Regions from separate parts of the Homo sapiens genome. Here region 2 is linked to region 1. A link means that fine-mapping ties the variant in region 1 to the expression of a gene that starts in the linked region. Tissue or cell type: transverse colon. Region 1 holds a variant in brackets; the other region holds the start of a gene. All regions are shown on one strand. Distances are from middle to middle.

What was found. PIP is the estimated chance that this variant, and not a neighbour inherited with it, causes the effect.
Region 2: PNP starts here. The variant in region 1 is fine-mapped to the expression of PNP in transverse colon (GTEx, PIP 0.98).

The regions. Positions count from the first base shown.
Region 1 is chr14:20,579,290-20,587,396 of GRCh38, forward strand. It overlaps RNASE11 (ribonuclease A family member 11 (inactive)), which reads right to left. Exons shown (of 3, transcript NM_001394190.1): 3 at 3,603-5,207. The coding sequence starts at 5,185. The coding sequence ends at 4,586. Among named protein-coding and RNA genes, the nearest start is that of RNASE11, 4.7 kb to the right of the region's middle. The variant C/G (reference allele first, on the strand shown) is at 4,363.
Region 2 is chr14:20,466,365-20,474,471 of GRCh38, forward strand. It overlaps PNP (purine nucleoside phosphorylase), which reads left to right and starts at 3,042. Exons shown (of 6, transcript NM_000270.4): 1 at 3,042-3,171; 2 at 5,944-6,113. The coding sequence starts at 3,161. RefSeq lists enhancers at 2,809-3,313, 3,504-3,573, 3,604-3,733 and a silencer at 2,974-3,093.

The DNA.
Region 1 (8,107 bases):
TGGGGTTCCTGGAACAGCCTGAGCTGGGGAGGACGAGGGGAACACATGCATAGCAGCAGAGCCCGGAAGCTTGGCCAGCCGTTGTGACCGTGCCCTTTGACCCTGTGTGAGACAAACCTCAGGACCTGTTCAAGCCTCCAGTGAGGACGCCTCCTCAAAGACCACCTCGGCCAGAGTTGACTGGGGCAAGTCTCTTACCTAAAGAAGGTTTAAGAGGAGAGGGGAGTGTCAACAAGGAGGCAAAGCAGCCAAATGTGCAGAGGGCCTGGAAACTAGAACGGGGCTTAGCTCACATTGCTCTCCTCAAAGACAGCAAATGCATCAATTTGCTTTCCTGGGAGGACTGCATGAGAACATCCCCTTCCTGTACCTATGCCCCCACTATGTTCTATTTTTAATCTTATTTGTGTGGATTGGGTAGGCAAACTATGATAGCCCCTTGATTTAATTTATATTACATTTACATCTTTTTCTTATTAAACTGATGACCTCTTTATATATTAAAGATATCAATCCTTTTGATACATTGAATTTTTTTCAATTATCTACTTAGCACAGTGTCCTTATTTAATCATAATGAAATTAATCATAATGGTTTGCCATTTAATCCTCAAAACAATCCTGTGAGGTAGAATTTTTTCAGGAGCATTCTACCTTTATCTTTCTGTGTGGTTATAAGCAAGTTTGCTGTTTTCCTTCAAATAAAGATGAGTGGCGAAAAGTGTGGCCTACAGAATCAGGCTATCCTCGTTTGCTCCTGGGGGGCCACCTATTATACACGTGACCTTGTACATTACCTACAGTCTTTGTGCTTCTGTTTCTTCATCGCTAAAGGGGGAAGAATAATAGTATTTGCCTCCTGGGCATTCTTCTGAGAATAAAAAGTAAATAAACTAGTGCCTAGCACATCATAAAAGCTCTATTGTTATTATGATTATTACCATTAAACATCTTCGTAATGATTGCTATATATGATTTCGAATAAGTTCAGCATGCTTTGAAACCTGAAGGATTAAGGATTTAAAACAGCCATGTTATCCCAAATCAGCCAGTTCTCTGGTTGCTGGAGTGAAAAGGAGGCATTTCATGTGTGTGACACCTCTTTTAACTTGTCACTGTTTTGGAAACATGAGTTCCTCTTACAGTGACTTTGCGTTTGCTCACAGATGTACCCTATAGTGAAGGACTTTCAGCATAAAAGGACTGCCTTGCTAGTTCTGGGAGACTGTGTAGGAGGTGGAAGCTCTTTGAGTTAAACTGAATTATTTTGCCTCAGTGTTGTCTTCAAAAGCTCTGAATATATACGCAGCAAGCTTTTTTCCTTCATCAGGACTAGAATGTCCTATGATTAAAAAGAGAACTTTAGTTCATCTAATCCAGTAGAGTTCAAACTTTGCAGCACATCAATAAACCTAATGCACTTTTAAAAGACCCACATGCTACAGTCTTATCTTTGATCGATAGAAGCCAAATTTCTGGGATTGGGGCCCAGGGATTTGTATTTATAATAGCTCCAAAAGCTGTTGAATTTGTTAGTGTAAGGCTAAGCTCATGGAATGAAATATCAGAGTATAGTGGGTAAAAATATATAAACATTTTAATCTCATATAACAGTCCCAAAATGAGCAATCCAGGCTAGCAAAATAACTGTGCTTAACAATTATTCAGGGATGTGGCCTCCTTCCATTTTACCGTTCAGGCCATTTCTAGGACATTGCCATTATCTGCATGATTAAAGTTGGGGCACACATGTCCATTTTGGCGATCTAGCTGTTGGGAAGAAAAAAGTCACAGAGGAGGCCAGTCCAATGTTGTAAGACCTGGACTTGGAAGCAGCATGAATTACTTCTGCTCACAGAGACTGGGAAAGTCAGTCTGGCTGGGCATCCTGTGCCTCACTGCATCCCTTTGCCTTGGGAGCAAGGTGGGTTGATTTGGGTGGCTAACCTGAAAACTTTGCCACAGTGATCCTGATGCACATCTATGCCTGAGAACCCAGACCTAATCCAGTTTCCTCCTTGTGTAGATAAGAAAATTGAATCTCAATGAGGGGAAATGACTTTCTTGGAAGGCATGGTGAGCCCCGCCACAGAACATATGAAGACTTATCGGTGATGTGGCAAAGGCACTCCTTCCTTCAGTACCATCTTGGGTACTTGAGGCCAGGGACTTGTTTCTTCATAATTGTTGCTTAAGAGATATTTAATATACTTTATTTTGGGAAAGCAGAGGGAATGTTAGAGACAAGAAGGGTACTCCTTTTAGGCTAAACAACCCCTGTTGGTGTCTTTCACAAACCTCTGTATCCTTCCATCCTCTGTCCATCCTCAGCTTCCTTCTCCTACCTGACTCTCCCTTCTTTGGCCCTTTTTAAATTGGGTCCATCTCCTTTATCATCCCATCTCATGCCCTCTAATGTTTTCTTTCAGCTAAGGGATATAACACACATTCACTTCTCAGTTATTTTTCTTTTCTTTCTTTTTTTCTTTTTTCTTTTTTTTTTTTTTTTTTGAGACAGAGTCTCACACTATCACCCAGAGTGGTGTGCAGTAGTGTGATCTTGGCTCACTGTAACCTCCGCCTCCCAGGTTCAGGTGATCCTCCCACCTCAGCACCCTGAATAGCTGGGATTACAGGTGTGCACCACCACATCTGGCTAAGTTTTGTGATTTTATTTTAGTAGAGACCGGGTTTCACCATGTTGACCAGGCTGGCCTCAAACTCCTGGCCTCAAGTGATCCACCTGACTTGACCTCCCAACGTGTTGGGATAGGTGTGAGCCACTGCGTCCGGCCCACTTCTCAGTTAGTTTTCTAACATGTGCAAGAAACATTTGTTGGACTGTATCTGGAACCCAGAGCTTCCGCTTCCTTCAGAGAAGTGGAAGGGTTTGGTCTTAACTAAGCCTCTTTAAAGGATGCTCCTGGCCCAAAAAGAGCTAGCTATTCTGGGTCTTTGTTTTCTCTTCTGGTGAGGGATGATATGAGTACTCAATTTGAAGTAGGCAGCATTTACTTTTTCTTACACATTAAAGAAAACTCTCCCAGAGTTTAAATAGTTAGGCTCTGAGGCTGACATGACTCTCAGCCAGAGCTGGAAATCTACTGTCGGAAAGAAGTTATTCAAATCTGAACTAAATTTGAACAAGAGGAGACTGCTTAGACTACTCTACTGTGGATGGAGTCCACCCTTCTTTTTGATGAGTGGGTGGTAGCATCAGACTCACTATGTGGAGCTATCCCTGGGATGGAACTCGGTAAGCACATCTTCCTTTCTGGGTCCTGAGTCCTCCTCCTACAGAGAAGAGACCTTTGGGACCCAAGCATTTTGCTTTATTGCTCTGTCCTTTGGCTGCCGAGTGCAAACTGAGTCCTAATTACATACCTGTTTGGCCAAACCCACATTGATTATTTAAACAACGCCTACACTGACAAGGGAAAGCCAGCTCAAACGTACAAAAATGTTGCTGTAATGCTGCAAATTGGTTGATTGTAAATGTTTTACAGTTCCAGTATATTGAGAATTCTGCACCAAATATGATAAAGCTTCGGGAAAATGACATATAGAGAATTATGTACAAGAAAGATGTTACCATGACATAATTTACATACATTTACATGCATTTAGTTAAAATTAGAACATTAAGAAAGAGTGGTCTCAGGATGGAGGGAGGATTTAAGGAGAGGAATAGAAACATATGGCCACACATCGATGAAGAAGATAACTGTCCATACTTTAAGCAGAATGTTGAACCACGAACGTTTGCAAATAAATAGCTGGTAGTGAACAAAATTAACTACAGTATCATAAGACATCAAGGTTGAAGACCAGTCCTGCCTGGTACTTAGCACAGACTTTCTATTCCCATCTTTCTGGCTCCTCTATTCTTCCATGGCTTGCCATTCCTCTCCCACAGCCCCAGGGTATCAAGACTTGGCTTGAATAAAGATTACAATAAGAATTTTCTTCTCTTTACAGCAACCTGTGAAATAGAGATGGGGGTGGAAGAATGGAGATTGCATAGGGCTGGAGCTATTGACACTGAGAGCATCAGCTCAGCCAAAGAATCTTTTTCCTCTGGCATTTCCTGAAGGACAGGCAGACTCTTTGTTATGTGCATACATCAATTCACACAAGTGTGAGCACATACCCTTTGAAGAGAGTAGTGATAATAATATATGTCACACTCATTCACTATTTTTCTGAATAGTATCATTGGCAGTACAATTAGCTTTTCATTGTCCATATTGGCTTTAGTCCTTGTTTCCTTAATTCTGCCTAGTTAGGTGGATTCTGTTTCTTGGCTTTATAGCTGAGCTAGGATGAAATTCAGTTTGTTTTACACCCTCCCCACCCTCCCCC[C/G]ACACAGAGAGAGAGATAGAGAGAGAAGAATCTGCACGCCAGTATCAGTCATAACTTTTAATTGAATTATCCACAATTTTGGATTTTTCACTCCTCCAGTTAGAATAAATAATCAGGAGTTCACTATAGTGCTAAAGAGTAGATATTAAGGAAAGGTTTAAACAAGAATGAACAAGAAGAGGTCCTTCTTTAGTAAGACCCTAGTCCTAAAGCTCTGTGGGATTTACAACTTAGAGCCACAAACTAACCAGCTCATCAGAGAATGACCTGTCAGCACTGTCAATATCTTCTCTAATGAGGTAACACTATGGTATTGGCACCTGGGGAATTGTTTGCCTGTAGTGAACTGGCACACTGTATTTTCCAGTTCTAGGCTCTCACAGCAGCTTATGCCAGGATTCTGTACAAACTTGCAGCTGGGGGCCCTGTGGACCCTGCGCATCACTTCTGTGGAGCTGCGGATGAAGTTATTGCTCCACTTGCACGATCCGTTTGCTTCTGAAACTTTTCTCCAGACTGTCATGTCATTGCAACACTCTTTGTCATTACCCGAACTGTTTCCCTTGGGGTCATTATAATGTAAACTTCTGAATGTCAGTAATGTGGAAGACATATCATCCTTGGACATGCTGAGGCTGGTATTTTTAACTAACAGGATCGGGTTCATTAATATCTCAATGGTCTGTTTTTCTTGGCCACTTTTTGCCATGTCATATTGCATCTCTTCGTCTGTAAATTCTTCTTTAATTATCTTCATTGTGCTTTCTGATGCTTCTGCAAGAACCAGGCCCAGGCTGAGCAGCAGCAGAGGAAAGGTCTCCATCTCAGATGTAGTGTAATCTCTTCTGCAGTAAAGACAATAAATGAAAGATAAAATAAGAAGATTAAAGAGGTAGTTCTTTCTTCCTCCTGACAGTTATTCCTGGTAGGGACCCCTACATGTAGGTTAAAATTTTTATATCTGTGAATGGAACTATGATATAATAGAAAGACAATCAGCTGTGGAGTCTGAAGACTCATGTTCAAATTCCTGCTTTTCTGCTTATAATTTATTCAACCTTATTTAACTCCAGTTTCCCCATCTGAAAAAAATTGTGAGAATTACGTAAGGTGACATGTTTAAAGATCTACAACCAAGTATTTGTTTCTTATCCTTTTCCCTTGGTCTATAATCTCATTGGTGGGGTGTATAATCTCCATGGTGGGTCACGATTCTCACTCAACACATTCCCTCACCATTACTGTATCTCCTATAGCCTCATATAGAACCTGGCACATGGTAGCCACTCGAAAACAAAATAAAACACACATTGCCATTTCCCCATCTCTCATTTCTTTTGCCACCCATTCTCATTCATAAGATTTCTGTCTTTACCAGTTCCTTCGGCAAGTTGATCCTGTAGAGGAAGATTCCACTTTGTTGCAGAGCTAAAAGTGAAATCGTGTTTGTTTCCTGGGAGTTTCTGCTGTTGTGTCTAACTGAGGGAAGGAGGGGCAACAGAGGGGTAGATAGGGTTGTATGAGATTGACTCAGGAGACCACGTGGAACCAAGGAAGCTCAGGGAGAACTGAACAAAGTGCCCATTTGGCAGTCGGAATCCCAATGACCTGGGCAGTACCATTGCTTCTTATTCTGTGAAATATTTTCTGTCTATTTATACCAAAACCCAGCATGACTTTTTTGTTTTCTGAAACCCTACAGCACAGATTAAGTTGCACTTCATTTTATATGATCTTTTTCATTTTTCCAGTTAGTCAATTCATGTTAATCTTTTCTCCCTCTTGTTAGGCTAAAAATTCCTCGAGCCTGAAACACAGTTTCTGATTATTTATACTTTTATTCATATAGAATCAAATAATGAACTGTAGATTAATAAAGAATCTGCACTCCAGGATCAGTTATAAATTTTAATGGAATTATCCACAATTTTGCATTCTTCACTCCTCCAGTTAGTATAAATAATCAAGAGTTTACTATAGTGCTAAAGAGTAGATGTTAAGGAAACAGGAAGAAGAGCAGAGCAGAAATTCTCAGTCTTTCTGAAACATGTAATTCAAGTGGGCAGCATTCATAGCTGCCTGAGTTTTATTTAGTGTGTGTAATTACTGCACACACACTAATTTCTCAACACTATTTGTTAACAACATAACATGACCTTACTAGTATATAAAATCCTTTACTTGAGGTCAATCCTGGAAAATCCCTAAAGAAAGGTTATTTAAGTTAATAATTATTTCTCTCTCTTTAGAATGATTCTATTTTCCTCTTTTTTATGTTCCACCTCTAAAGCCACCATCCCTTCTACATTGATCTCCTACATTATTACCCTTACTTCCCTCCTAATCACCCCTTCCTGACCCTCCAATTTCTTCTATACACTACTTTTCTAAAAACATAACTTGCAACAACACTCAGAATTTTTGAAACATTCCTCTTTGCTCACAGTAGGAAGTCTGATCCCCTGAGCCCAGGAGCCAATGCTCCACTTGCTCTCATCTCAATCTGCCTATCGGGATTTATCTCCCATTATTTTGCTACACAAACCTGCCCTAGTCAATCAGTGTGACTCTTTTTTTAATATACCCTATGCCATCTCTCCCACTTAGCTTCTTTCTTGAATGGCTATTCTTTCCTGCCTCTTGAAATCCTTCAAAGCCCAGTTCAGATCTCATTCTTTATTTTACATGTTTCATCACCGCTTAAGTCTACTAAATCCATTTCCAACTTCTCTGAACTTCTTATCATTCCCTTCTTATACCACTCATTTGATGTTATTATGTATGAACTTTTAAAAAATTATATTTGAATTTAAAATGTCTGTGTGAGAAACTAGAGGAAAAACCTAGCACCAAGAATACATAAGCCTTAATTGGGTTGATGGATTATTGATAGATTATTAAGAATTAAGTATATGTGTCCAGGTGTGTGTCCAAGGATGCCTTGACCAAAGACCTGATACATTTTGAAGGCAGAAAGGATGAGGGATTTATAGGGAATTTATTTTGTTTCCTAAACTTCTATATCCTATACCATTGACATCAGTAGTGAGGTGACAATAGGGAAACAGAAAGACCAGGAGGAGAAAGATAAACAGGAAGAAGAGCAGGGCAGAAATTTCCAGTCTTTCTGAGACATATATTTCAAGTGGGCAGCATTCACAGCTGCCTAGGTTTTATTTGAAACTGCTAAGAGGTGCCCTTTAAAAAAATATACCTGGCTGGGCACAGTCACTCATGCCTGTGGTCTCATTGCTTTGGGAGGCCAATGCGGGAGGATCACTTGAGGCCAGAAGTTCAAGACCAGCCTAGGCAACATAGTGAGAATCCATCTCTACAACAACAACAACAACAAAAAGCCAGTTGTGGTGGCATATGCCTATAGTCCCAGCCACTCGGGAGGCTGAGAGGAGAGGATTTCTTGAGCCCAAAAGTCTGAGACTGCAGTGAGCTGTGATCACACAACTGCACTCCATCCTGGGCAACAGAATGAGACTCTGATCCTATATATCTGTATAATATATATGTATATACATATTTAGATACAGATAGATAGATATAGATACACACACACCCAAACTACGAATGTCTAAAATGTCACAATTCATTTGAATTTGGTGTTGATCCCTATTGAATGAAATTACTCTGAGGATACATCCTATTGGTTCATCTCAGTTATACTTTTATCTGCAAGATATTTTTAATTAGAAAGGAGGAGCTTCGGTGAAGAAGGGGAGAAAAAGCACTG
Region 2 (8,107 bases), 110 kb before region 1:
CTCAGCCTCCCTAGTAGCTGGGACCACAGATGCCACCACACCTGGCTAATTTTTGTATTTTTTGTAGAGATGAGACTTCACCATGTTGCTCAGGCTGGTCTCAAACTCCTGGGCTCAAGTAATCCTCCTGTCTTGGCTTCCCAAAGTGCTGGGATTACAGGTCTGAGGCACTGTGCCTGGCCAGGGATAGATATTTTTAAAACCGCATATTTAGCTTGTGATCTAGAGAGAATAAGAGATCTCAGTTGAGAGGGCAGGAATAAAATACGTTCCACAAGGCAATACTGAGTGACTTAGAACCTATTCCTGCCACTTTTTTTTAGTTTCCTTGATCTTGCGGGTGGAGGGTAAGTGTGTTACTAAGTATGTTCCTGGACAAGGAGTCCCTCTGAAGATAGAAGTGATGAGAAGATAGAAGAAAAGGTAATAAGGCATTAATGAACTCTAATCACACTAAGATTGATGATCGTCTGGTTCCTGTCTATAGGAATGCTACAGGAACTCTTTTACCCTAAAAGTAAATAATAAAGCACAGTTCCAGTTTCTTTTATGTGGATACAAGGTGGCAGTGACTAGAAAAGATAAGAACAGTGCTGTGCTCTAGCATAAAAACGTAATTATGCTATGCAATATGGTAGCCACTAACCACATGTGACTATCGAGAAGTTACAATGTAATTAGTATGATTAGGTAACTGAATTATTTTTATTATATTTCATCTTAATTAATTTTATTACTTTTAAATAGCCACACATGGCTAGTGCCTTCTGTTTTGAACAGTGTGGGATTCATTGGTATTGATAGGCTGGATATACCTCTAGTTTTTATTTTGATTCAATTTATGGTTAGGTGAGTCTAGAAAGAACAAAAGAGAAAGAGACAATGGAGATTAATCATAATAGCCAGCATTTAATGTGTGCTTATTATATATCCAGGCATTTACCTAAACATGTAAAAGGTATTCTGTATAATCCTTGCAAAAATACTAAGATTATTGCTATTTTACAGATGAAAAAATTGAAGCATAATAAGAATTTTACTTGCCTAGAATCACACGAGTAAATAAGGGGTGAAGATGGCATTCATACACAGGTAGTTTTATTAGAGCCCATTCATTTACACTACATAGATTCAGGAATGAGGTGGCATGGAGTGACTGGGGCCATGGTTCCCAAACTGTGCCAAAGTACAAGCTCACAAGGGTATTGTGGAATATTTTTAATTTTCAGAGGAAACACAGCAATATTTTATATTTCTTAAACACTGTGTGACCTATTAACTTGAGGTGATTCACAGTTGGAACATTAGATTGTGCTACATTCCTTTTGATGACAATATATCTGGCCAGGTGTGGTAGCTCATGCCTATACTCTCAGCACTTTGAGAGGCCGAGGTGGGCAGATCAGTTGAAGTCAGGAGTTCAAGGCCAGCTTGGCCAATATGGCAAAACCCCGTCTCTACTAAAAATACAAAAATTAGCCAGGCATGGTGGCAGGCACCTGTAATCCCAGCTACTCGGGAGGCTGAGGCAAAAGAATGGCTCAAACCCAGGCAGCAGAGATTGCAGTGAGGCAAGATCGTGCTACTGTACTCCAGCCTGGGTTACAGAGTGAAACCCTGTCTCAAAAATATATATATATATAAAGACAACATATCTTTACAAAAGATGGTTTTAGAAGGTCCCTCTGATAAAAATTAAGTATTAAGTAAAAAAAAAAAGTACTGTGTAAAAATCAGCATGGAACAGAAAATGAGGGTGGCAGCATTGGATTCCTGCATGTGAGAAGTTGAGTAGTGCCAAACAGATGTACATATCCCGTAAGTAACTGTTTGTGGTTATTTAAGAACGAAATTTTTTTTTCAATTTGTGTGCATTGTTATTTTCAAAGTGCTAGTAAGTTCTCAGGAACCAGCTACTCACTCTGTTGCCCAGGCTGGAGTGCAATGGTGTGATCTCAGGTCACTGCAACCTCCACCTCCCGGGTTCAAGCCATTCTCCCTGCCTCAGCCTCCCAAGTAGCTGGGATTACAGGCGCCTGCCACCACGCCCAGCTAATTTTTTGTATTTTTAGTACAGATGGGGTTTTGCCTTGTTGGCCAGGCTGGTCTCCGACACCTGACCTCAGGTGATCCACCCACCTCGGCCTCCCAAAGTGCTGGGATTACCGGCGTGAGCCACCGCGCCTGGCCTTTATATATAAATTTTTTTTTAATTTTTTAAATTAAAAATTAAATGTAAATTTAATGTAAAAATGTAAATTAAATGTAAAAATTAAATTGTAAATGTGGGCAGAAGTAATAGTTGTATTCTACCAAAGACACGCTATTTATGTTATATTCTGGTACCCGTGTATTCCGATAACAGAATTTTCTTCGTGGGAGGAGTCCTCTAGTTACCTGAATTGCTTGGATCAATATTGCGCAGATCAAGGGATTATCTGTGTCCCTACCCACCAAATCCATCCTTATCCTTTCTGTCGGCATCTAGGACCCCGGAATTCTTGCCTGAGAACTTTTTCTTCTCCCGGTCTGGGCCTGGATGTGCTCTCCTAAACCCTGTATCCTCCAAGTTAGCACTGTTGCCGGGGGCGACCCAGCTTCCCTTGTCCAGGGAGCAACTCAGACACAGTCTCGCTTCATTTTTATTCTGGGGTTGTACAATCTAAGGTATGAAATTTTTCCTTTTTGAATCTCTCACGGTTTGCTATTGACACAGCTGGAATGAGGTTGCAAGGAGAGGGCTGGGGGCTCTCCTCCCTACTTCTAGCCCTATTTCCGCATAGGCCTTCTTGCTGGGAACTCCTGCCCTGCGGACTGGAATGGGTACCGAGATGAAATGCTGGGTGCGCTCCGGCTCCCCCCGCCCGCCCCGGGGCAGAAGGTTTAGGGCTGGGAAGAACTCTGATTAGGTTTACAGCCCAGGTTCAGCCGATTGAATTAGGGTGTGTCACCATGGAGACAGGGCCGGCCCGCGTGCTCGCTTGCCATTGGCTGGGGACTCCAGGGCAAGGGATATAAGCCAGAGCCTAGACCAGTGAGCCAACTGTGCGAACCAGACCCGGCAGCCTTGCTCAGTTCAGCATAGCGGAGCGGATCCGATCGGATCGGAGCGGATCGGAGCACACCGGAGCAGGCTCATCGAGAAGGCGTCTGCGAGACCATGGAGAACGGGTGAGGAGGGCACCAGGCCCGCAGGACCCTTGGGGAGGGGCAGGTGCTGTGACCCGGGAACCTGGCACACTGGGCCCAGAGGGAGCTGGCGGAGGGAGCGAGCGCCCAGGGGATGCAGAGAGGCCTGGCACTGAGCCTAGTGTCGGGAGCAAGGCGGCAGAGTCATGCGGCAGCCAGCGCGGGCAGGGACGCACGCGGGAATCGAGCTGGGGTGGCGCCACCGGAGCAGGAAGGGGACAGGTCGGTGCGGTCTAAGCTACTCCGTAAAAGCAGCCGTTGTGTGTCTCCGTGTGTGTGTTAGGGGAACAAGTGGAGAGTGAGTATATGTATATATCCCTCACTCCATACCAGGAGGAGGTCTCCTCACCCCCTGCGCTCTTCATAAATTCCCATGCTAGGGTCTGGGTAAAGCTGCGAGGTACTTTTGGTGCTCAAATTCGGAGTTCCTCCTTTAGAGGCAAGATTACTCACCTCCTTTGCCAGTTGCACTCCTCCCTTCCTTCCAGACTGGCAGTATGATTAACTCGGTGGGAAGTGACTGCTAAGTGGAGACGGAAATCAGTCACCGAACTGAGCAACAGTCCTGTGCTCACTTCCCCCACCCCACGCCTTTGAAAACTCTTCTCTCGGCTTGGGTCCTGGATATCCCAGTCCAAGTGACCTGCATTAGGCATCACAGTTGCTTTTGGATGCCCAGGGAGCCAGGGTGTTCTTGAGGGGACTGATAGCCAATGAGGAAGTGCTGTGAGATGTGGCTAGACATGCCATGTGGCGGCAGCTTCACACATTCATTTCCTTTGCACCTTTTGGGGATGCCATTTGATTAACATTTTACCAGCTTAATTGCTTCTCTCCATTGTCCTGTGGCTCCGTTGACCAGCCCCCAACCTACCTGATCCAACTGCTTCCCTGAGGGTAGCCTGGTGTATTGTGCAATCATGTCTGGTTTCCCGGGCTCTGCTTTCCAAGTAAAAAATTTCCTGTGAAAGCTTGGTTAGTTGTGTTCAGCTCTGTCACACCTCATTGCCACCTCTGAAAGCAACGTTTGGTCTTCCCAGATGGATGTGAGAGAACTGGACTTGGAACTGGGAGAAAAGTAACACGGGTTGATTCTTGCTAGTGTAGGGGTTCTGGGTAAGTGCCCTGAGGTTTCTGAAGAGCAAAGATCCTCGGTGGAGAGAAAGGAAACTGGGAGGAGGCAGGGAGGGGGAAGGACAGGAAGAAGACCACAGGCAGGTGGAAAGCAGGAGAAAGATTCAAATACTTTGTGTAACAGAGCCATAGGTCTTTGGAAGTTGTTAGCAAGTATTCAATTCATTTTCAGATTGAGCCTATAAGATAGATGGGGCCAATTTACATCCCTTGTTTATACCTGAGAAAATAATTTAAAGCACAAATTACATGCCTAAAAAGACAATATTGGGACTAGAATCTAGGTCGAATTCTGCTTCCCTCCAGACCAGCAATTCCTAAACCTGGTTTTATTTTATTTTATTTTTATTTATTTATTTTGGAGTCGGAGTCTCGCTCTGTCTCCCAGGCTGGAGTTCAGTGGAGCGATCTTGGCTCACTGCAACCTCTGCCTCCCGGGTTCACACCATTCTACTGCCTCAGCCTCCCGTGTAGCTAGGACTACAGGGGCCCGCCACCACGCCCGGCTAATTTTTTTTTTTTTTTTTTTTTTTTTGTATTTTTAGTAGAGACGGGGTTTCAACATGTTAGCCAGGATGGTCTCGATCTCCTGACCTCGTGATCCGCCCACCTCGGCCTCCCAAAGTGCTGGGGTTACAGGCATGAGCCACCGCGCCCAGCCCCTAAACCTGGTTTTAAAATCAAAATTACATGGGCTTCAGAATCTGTTTTTTGTGGGGGTTTTGTGTGTGTGTGTGTGTGTGTTTTTTATAGGGTCTCACTCTGTCACCAGGCTGGAGTGCCAGAATCTGTTTTTCTAACAAGCTTCTGCTGAGAATTTGTGTAGTCAGTCCTGGTTTAACCTTTGACAACCAGTACTGTGGACTGGGTCTGCTTTTTTGTACAGCAGTTTATCTAGTTTTTTGTCTGGAATTAACCCCCTTGTGATCCAGGGAGCTAAGAATGGCACGTAGACCTCTACCAGGGGTGGTCCCATTGTGTTTTATTGGTTAAAACAAAAAAGAAATGTAGCCCTTAAGTCTTTGGCTGAGGAAGGAACTGGAGGAATGAGGGTTCAAAAGGAAATTTGAGTTTATCTCTGCCTTCATAGTAGTTGGTCTTAATTACATTTTGAATGTCTTTGGGGAACAGGTAAGGTAATAAGGGGGATTTTACTAGGTGGGCACCACCCTCAGGAAGGGCTTAATCCCATTTTGAGTACTCTTCTTGGGCTCCCTCCTGGCCAAGCCCTTTTACCCTCCCTAATTTGATTATTTCCTTGCACTTCCCCGTACACTCTGGCCCCTTCCTCTCTAAACCTTTGTCATAAGGATAAGTATGCAGCTTGCCAGTGTTCAGTGGATCCAACACTGGAGTTGGGCCTGTTAGTAGAAACAGGCTTTATTAACTTTTGCCAGGCTCTAGAATGGAGGTAGTTTCATATCAGACTTGTAGTGGGCTTGATTCAGAAAGAAGGGTGGCTGAGTAGATGGAAGAGCATAGTATGGCCTTTCCCTCTGTGCCAGCTTCTCCGTCCCTGCTGCCTCAGTATACCTGCCAGCCTTTTTGCACCGAAGGTCATTTGTCTGTGATGCCCTTGGAATGGGAGCAGAATTCACCTTGATATTTTTTCTCCCCCAGATACACCTATGAAGATTATAAGAACACTGCAGAATGGCTTCTGTCTCACACTAAGCACCGACCTCAAGTTGCAATAATCTGTGGTTCTGGATTAGGAGGTCTGACTGATAAATTAACTCAGGCCCAGATCTTTGACTACGGTGAAATCCCCAACTTTCCCCGAAGTACAGGTACTGGCAAGGGAAAGTGGGGAATGGGACTGAGGGATGTTCTTGGAATTCTGTGGAACACAACCAAGGAGGCCAATGTTTCTACTCCTTGACCTAGCATTTCACTGAAGACAAATGTTGTAAGAGAGGAGAAAAGCCCACCATGAGTCAGAGTGACTTTAGGAGATGCCTCTAGCAGACATCCCATAAGAGACAGGACATGTGTGTGTCAGTGGACTGAGGCTAAGACTCAGAAGAGGGCCAGGTGACAGGGGCCAAGTAAAGGGCAAGGGTTGTTTATTTGGTTTACGTAATTTCTCAAATAACTAACTTCTGTTGGTTTATTTATTAATTTTTAAGATTTCTATCTTCTTTTCCCTGGAGAGTTAAGAATTTTTTTTTAAGACCTGTCAGCAGGAAAAGACCTTTAATAGCTATTTTTTTAAACTCTTTAACACAAGACTGGAAGAGCAGAGGGAGAAGGTGAGGGAAATATTAACAGAGGGTGTGTGAAGGGCATACTTCTCTAAGGGAGATAGTAGTGACGCTGGCTCCACTGGCCACTCCTACCCCCAGTGAGAAGGGCACTGCATTAAATGATAAGTGGGTTAGTTTTTTTAAGCTTATCAACATGTTTATTTTTTATACTCCACTTGGGTTTCCTTTGTCAACTTTATTACTGTTTTTGTTTTGTTTTTTTGCATAAGCTCCTCTATCTTTGAGAATTTCTCAGCTCTTCCTCTTGGTTCTAGTCCCTCTCCCATTCCCTAAGGGATAGGTTGGCCGTCTATTAGAAGTGACTGCCAGATAAAAGAAATGGTAATAATGGCTGTTATGTCTGTGGGGAGTTATCTTTGCACTCCCACGCACCCCTCCGTGGGCATGTGTTCCCATAGGACTGTTCCGTGGGTCATAAGGAAAGAGACACTTGCATGCGTTCAAATTCTTTCCCCCTTGTTCAGTAGCCTCTTCTTTAAGAAGCCAGAGTAAGTATACTATGAGCTTGCTTGCTGGACTGAGGAGGCAGGTAATTAAGTTAGGGCAATAGATAAGAATACATGTTTTGAGAACTTTGAAAAATTTGAAGAGGTCTATAATTACTGCATTCACTGTACTCACTTTATTTTGAAACAGAGTCTCGCTCTGTCACCCAGGCTCGAGTGTAGTGTTGTGATCTCGGCTCACTGCAACCTCCACCTCCCAAGTTCAAGAGATTCTCCCACCTCAGCCTCCCGAGTAGCTGGGATTACAGGCATGTGCCACCACACCTGGCTAATTTTTGTATTTTTAGTAGAGATGAGGTTTCACCATGTTGGCCAGGGTGGTCTTGAACTCCTGGCCTGTTGATCCGCCTGTCTTGGGCTCCCGAAGTGCTGGGACTACAGGTGTGAGACACCGCACCTGGCCTATTTTTAATTTTAATTTTTATAGATTTACAGGGGTACAATGCAGTTTTGTTATATGGATATACTGCGTGGTGGTGACGTCTGTGCTTTAGTGTAACCATCACCTGAGCAGTGAACATTGTACTTATTAGGTAATTTCTCATCCCTCATCCCCATCCCACTTTCTCACCTTTCCGAGTCCCCAGTGTCTATTATTTCACTCTGTAGGTCCATATGTACACATTTGGTTCCCACTTATAAGTGAGAACATGTAGTATTTAATCTTCCATTTCTGAGTATCTACTTTTTTTGCTCACTTTTTACTCTCTGGCAGTATGGCTTGTATTATCTTGAAATTTCTTTAAAAAGCCCTTCCTTCTTTGTGTGTTCATGCTGAACATGCTGAACGCACCCCATATCTCTAATCTTGGGTTGTATTTGTATAATTATTAGTAATGCCTGGCTCTCTCACCAGACTTAAACTTTCTGAAAGCAGAGATAATAATGAGTCTTTTACTTAATTACAACCTAACATTTTGAGCAGAGCGAGTAACTCACAGTAGGTGCTTAATGGATATGTGTTGCATGAAAATATAATCCCATTCATTTCTCTTTCTGTTTTGTATACAG